Linked DNA regions of Homo sapiens: region 1 is linked to region 2. The links come from fine-mapping of genetic effects on gene expression. A gene starts in region 2. The other region holds a variant in brackets. All regions are shown on one strand. Distances are between the middles of the regions.

The links. PIP is the estimated chance that this variant, and not a neighbour inherited with it, causes the effect.
Region 1: its variant is the best candidate, but not a certain one, in a credible set for the expression of NDUFA12 in blood mononuclear cells (TOPMed, PIP 0.89).

Annotation. Positions count from the first base shown.
Region 1 is chr12:94,966,660-94,969,578 of GRCh38, forward strand. No RefSeq gene overlaps it. Among named protein-coding and RNA genes, the nearest start is that of NDUFA12, 36 kb to the right of the region's middle. The variant C/G (reference allele first, on the strand shown) is at 1,276.
Region 2 is chr12:95,002,545-95,005,463 of GRCh38, forward strand. It overlaps NDUFA12 (NADH:ubiquinone oxidoreductase subunit A12), which reads right to left and starts at 1,153. Exons shown (of 4, transcript NM_018838.5): 1 at 1,051-1,153; 2 at 195-277. The coding sequence starts at 1,136. RefSeq lists enhancers at 784-1,411, 876-1,275.

The sequences.
Region 1 (2,919 bases), 36 kb before region 2:
CTTGAACCCAGGAGATGGAGGTTGCAGTGAGCCGAGATTGCGCCACTGCACTCCGGCCTGGGCAACAGAGTGAGACTCGGCCTAAAAAACAAAAAATATACACAGACATTAACTTCCTGGAGCCAGAGCTGATAAATATGGCTCCATTACTATGCTCTTATGATGTGTGCATTTCATACTATGGGCACTTGGCACCAGTGTATGAATTAACTTGTATTTGAGAAGAATGTTAGGAACAGGACATCTCCATTCATAGAAGGATGACTTGAAAGCGGGGATATAGACCGACAGGTCTTTGCAAGCTGATCACACAAGTGATTGCAAACCCTTGAAATGATCACCAATTTTTTGGAAACACAGCATGACATCATGGTAATTAGTGTTCTTTTTTTCCTGTAAAAATTGCTTAATGAAACTTTAGAAATTTCCTATGTATAACTATTTGCATGTTTAGATGTTATTTCCCACAAGAATTCTTACTTTCTGAAACTTCAGAATTTACTGTTCTGGGCTGCCGCTGTTTAATTTCAGTCACTATCTCACCTCCAACAAAAATTATTATTATTTTTTTTGAGACAGAGTGTCTCTCTGTGGCCCAGGCCAGAGTGCGGCAGCGTGATCTCAGCTCACTGCAGCCTCTGCCTCCCAGATTCAGGCGATTCTCCTACCTTAGCCTCCTGAGTAGCTGGCACTACAGGCATGTGCCGCCATGCATGGCTAATTTTTGTATTTTTAGTAGAGACGGGTTTTTGCCATGTTGGCCAGGCTAGTCTCAAACGCCTGACCTCAGATGATCTGCCTGCCTCAGCCTTCCAAAGTGCTGGGATTACAGGCGTGAGCCACTGCACCCTGCCCTAAATCTAATCAATACAGTTTTGCTTCATTATGTCTACATGTAGAGTGCTTTTGTAGGTGGACAGTGGCTGTTTAGTAAATGCTCAATACACAGATTCTTTACTGGAATAATTTTGTTCAGGCCTTTTCCCAAAAAGTAACAATAAGTACTATGAATAAAATAAAACAAGGAAATTCATACAAATAAACAATAATAGGAAGTTCCTGAGGAAGCTACTTTAGATTAGATGGACACAGAACATTCTGTTGAGGAGGTGATACTTGTAAAGTAAGATATGAATGATACCAAAAAAAGGAGCAACACAAAGATGTTAATATTCTAGGCAGAAGGAAGAGCAAGTGCAAAGACCTAAGACGAGAATGAATCCAGTCTTTGAAGATTAGACAGAGGCTTGTGTGGCTGACCTGTAGTGGGTGATG[C/G]AGGGAGAAATGAGAGATGATATCTGAGAGGTAGGTCAGTAAGGCACATCATAAACACAAGCAGGGACTCCCACAGGCAGTTCCACTGTCTTTTTTTTTTTGAGACGGGAGTTTCACTCTTGTTGCCCAGGCTGGAGTACAATGGCTCACTGCAACCTCCGCCTCCCGGATTCAAGTGATTCTCCTGTCTCAGCCTCCCAAGTAGCTGGGATTACAGGCGCATGCCACCACACCTGACTAATTTTTCTATTTTTAGTAGAGGCGGGGTTTCATCATATTGGTCAGGCTGGTCTCGAATTCCTGACCTCAGGTGATCCGCCTGCCTTGGCCCCCCAAACTGCTGGGATTACAGGTGTGAGCCACTGCACTAGGCCTCTTTTCTTTTCTGTGAAGTGAGTTTCTCCACCACGGACACTGTCCTACATATGACAAGGTAGAAAGCATTCTAATCCCATGAATGCTGATGTTGACCAAGGCATGATAGGCAAGGAAAACAGACCCAAATTCAGAATAAGTGCCTATTCCCACAAAAACAAATCATCTCTCCCTCCAATATGGAAGAAGTCCCGTGAAATGAACTTGCCGCATTGACGATACTGGGCTTAGATATGTGTTTTCTGTTGGGATCTTCAAGAAGTAGGCACTGAGACAAAGATTTGTTCCCAGAAGGTGATCTCAGTAATCATCTGGCTACTTTGTTCTAAATCTTTTTGGATTACAGCTCCAAGCCTCAAGGTTCATTTGCCAAGCTCCTCCCAAAACTTTTACACTAATCTTCCATGTTGCTTTTCTCCATCTCTGACTATCTAGCCAGTGACTGGTTACGGTTACAGATCCTCACCTCAGATCATGTTTCTCTCAAGTCAAAGTACATGATAAAAGACAGTGCTTGGAATTCTGCCTACAAATTGAGATTTGCCCTCTACTGTCCTTCAAGACCACCCCAAATATACACAGTACATTTCTAGCTGATAGTGCCTATTGTTCATGGTATCTGTAAGCCAGGTTTGGTTTTTTTCATTTTCAGTTAACTGGATAATAATGCTCCACAAGGGTAAAGGGACAGATTGGTAGGGGCGAGGTGTGGGAATAGAGTAGTTAAAGGCACAGGGTCGGGAGAAATCTGTTCAAAGGAAATGTGTCTTCATGGCCTGTCTGGTCCCACCTGCTAGGTGATGGAGTGCTGCTGGAAATGGTCAACTTTATGAGTAGATGGATTAAATAGCACCTGGTGTCCCATAGCCTCCAACATCCCCAGAAGCAAATTAGAACCGTTTCTCAAAAGGAGAATAGTAATCTTCCAGAAGGGGGTATGACCTTGCTCCAAAGTCCTGTGGGCTTCCATTGTGATTCTCCTGGAGAAATTTGTCTCTGACTTCAATAAGTCTCCCAATCAGCCAGATAGACTTTGAGAGGGCTGAGCAGCAGAGCTGCTTGGACTGCAGACTGGGCCACCTACAGGGACTATTTTTGCTCTGCCAGCTTTTCAGGTCACCAGGTAAATAAATAAGTGCAAAACACCTGTATGTTATATGCTGTCTCAAAAGTCCAGGGCTCAAAAAGCCAAAACAGCACACTGAATAGTCTCTTGAAGGCACTGAATTCAACCTGATCCAGCTAAGTAAGGGATACTCAGGACATAGG
Region 2 (2,919 bases):
GAATGAGCATTTTTCCATACCTTCATTGGCTGTTTACTTTTCTTTTTTCTGTAAATTATCTTTTTTCATTTTCTATTGAGTTTTTCATCCTTTTCCAGGTGTTTTGTAAAAGCTCATTGCATAATATGGAAAATAGACTCAAATCAAATCCCAATCCCAATCCAATTATTCATACTAAAAAATACTGCACTCACCAAAAAATTGCTTGTTGTCTTCATAGTATTTGTTTCCATATTTGTCTTCCCCCACTAATGTACCAACCTTCGCATCATTTGTCCTGTGAATACCCAAAAGAAAACAGACATTTTAGAATGATTCTTAGTTCAAAACATAAACGGAAATAAAGTGAGAGTAACAACTTTCAGACACAAGGGCTGCTGCATCAACTAGCAAAATGAAGAAGTGCTGGGGATGGGAAAAGATGAATTGACAACTGATGTGCTCAAATTACACTAAAAATATAAATGTAGTCTCTTCAGATTACAGGACTACTTGTATCTACTATCCCTCAGCCAGGAGGCACTGGAATTAGCAAAACCTTTAGGAAATCAAAAAGCCAAAGTATTTCATCTTCTTACAATGATACGAAGGTCTCCAGGCTCTTTCATTCCACTCTGGGTCTCCATTTAGGTTTCTGCGAAACTATGCTGCTCGTGGGATCAGTGAATGTCAGGAAGAGAAGGGACCATCATTATTACCTTCAACGCCTTACAGACAAGGAACTGTACGGCAGTGCAGGGAAAAAAACTTTACCAGGGTCACTGAGTTAATGTCTTGTAATCCTCATTACTCTCCAGGGCGTGGGAAAAGAGGGGAGCCCAGATGCCCTTGCCTCCGAGTCACAGCTCTGACTCTACAGATAGCTTCGGTCTTGTATCGGGGATATATGGGACAGAGACCAGCCTGGGGGTGGCAAGGCAGAGATTGGGGCGGTTGTCCTTGACAAGAGCTGTGGATTCTCCAAGGTGACCCGAGCCTGGGACCCCTTCCAAGAAATCAGCCAGCGAAAGTCCAGCCCCAGAGGCCAAGAGCATGGCTCTGGCCGCCTACCTGAAAAAAACCCGTAGATAGCCTCGGAGACCGCCGTGGCCGGTGATCTGCTGCAGCCCGCGTTTCAGGACCTGCACTAACTCCATCTTGCCTCGCTGGCCCCGCCTCCCGGGTGCGCCGAGCAAAACCCACCGGATGGAAGCTGCCACTCAGCCGCAGGAAGCCCACGCCCAGAAGGTTCTCACGCGAACGCCAGACGTGGTGGCTCTGCGCGTGCGCAGAGCTAGGTCTTGCCTACGCGGTCATGTTCTGGCTTCCCAAGTAGGCAGAATTGGTTTCCCCTGGAAGCAAAGGTACCTTAAAATTTAGTTTTCAGAGGTTAAATCTAGAAGGCGGGCATATGCTGGAAAGCTCACCTACACGAGGCTTTCTCACACGGGGATTCCCCCTTTGGGAATTTCAGTTTCCTCATCTAAAAATAATTGGCTCTGGTGGGCGCGGTGGCTCACTGTTGTAATCCCAGCACTTTGGGAGGCCGGGTAGGGAGGATCGTTTGAGCCCAGGAGTTCGAGACCAGCCTCGCCAACACAGCGAGAATTCTGTCTCTACAAAAAAAAAAAAAAAATTAAAAATTAGCTGGATGTGGTGGCGCGTGCCCGTAGTCCCAGCTACTCGGTAGGCTGAGGCTTAGATGGGAGCATCGCTTGAGCCTAAAAAATTTCAATATTACTTCATTTGTTAACCACAATTCTTCTACAAAGAGAAACCTCCCTTCAACTATTTGGCTCCTGAGATACAATTAATGTAGGAAAGGCAGTATGGGTGCTTGATTCTCTTACTTTTTTTTTGTTTTTTAATTTTAGAGACAGGCTCTCTGTCACCCAGGCTGAAATACAGTGGTGTGATCATAGCTCACTGCAGCCTCAAACTCCTGTGCTCAAGCAGTCCTCCCATTTAAGTAAGTGCCACCACCCCTGGCTAATTTTTTTTTTTTTAGAGATGGGCATCTTGTTATGTTGCCCAGGTTGGTTTTGAACTCTGGCCTCAAGTGATCCTCCTGCCTCAGCCTCTCAAAATGCTGGGATTACAGGTGTAAGCCACCACACCCAGCCGATTCTTTCCCTTATGTGTGTTTTCAAAATAACAATTTAGTTCCCTAGCTTTTTTTTTTTTTTTTTGGTAGTGGTGGTTAAAAACACAAAATATAAAATTTACCATTTTAACCATTTTTAAGTGTACAGTAGTGTTAACCACATGCACATTGTTGCGCAACAGATCTCTAGAACTTATTCTTCTTGCAAAACAGAAACTTTATATCCATGGAACAACTTTTTCCTCTTTCTCCATCCCCTGCCAACCACCATTCTACTTCTGTTTCTAAGAGTTTAACTACTTTAGATACTTCATATAAGTAGAATCATGAGGTGTTTGTCTTTTAGGACCTGGCTTATTTCACTTAGCATGATATCCACAAGGCTCATCCATAGTGTAGTATATGACAGGATTTTCTTCTTTTTATAAATGTTGAATAATATTCCACTGTATGTATATGCCACCCAGTTACCTGTCCATAAACATTTCTGCTGATTCCGCCTCTTGGCTATTGTGAATAATGCTGCAGTGAACACGGGTGTGCAGATATCTCTAAGATCCTGTTTTCAGTTCTTTTGGATATATACCCAGAAGTGGATTGCTAGATCATATGGAAATTTTATTTTTTATTTTTATAGGAATCCCCATACTGTTTTCCATGGCAGCATCACCATTTTACATTACTAACAACAATGCACAAAGGTTCCAATTTCTCCACCTCCTCACCAACACTACATATTTTCTGTGTTTGTTTGTATGTTTGTTTGTTTGTTCTGAGACGGAGTCTAACTCTGTTGCCCAGGCTGGCGTGCAGCGGTGCGATCTCGGCTCACTGCA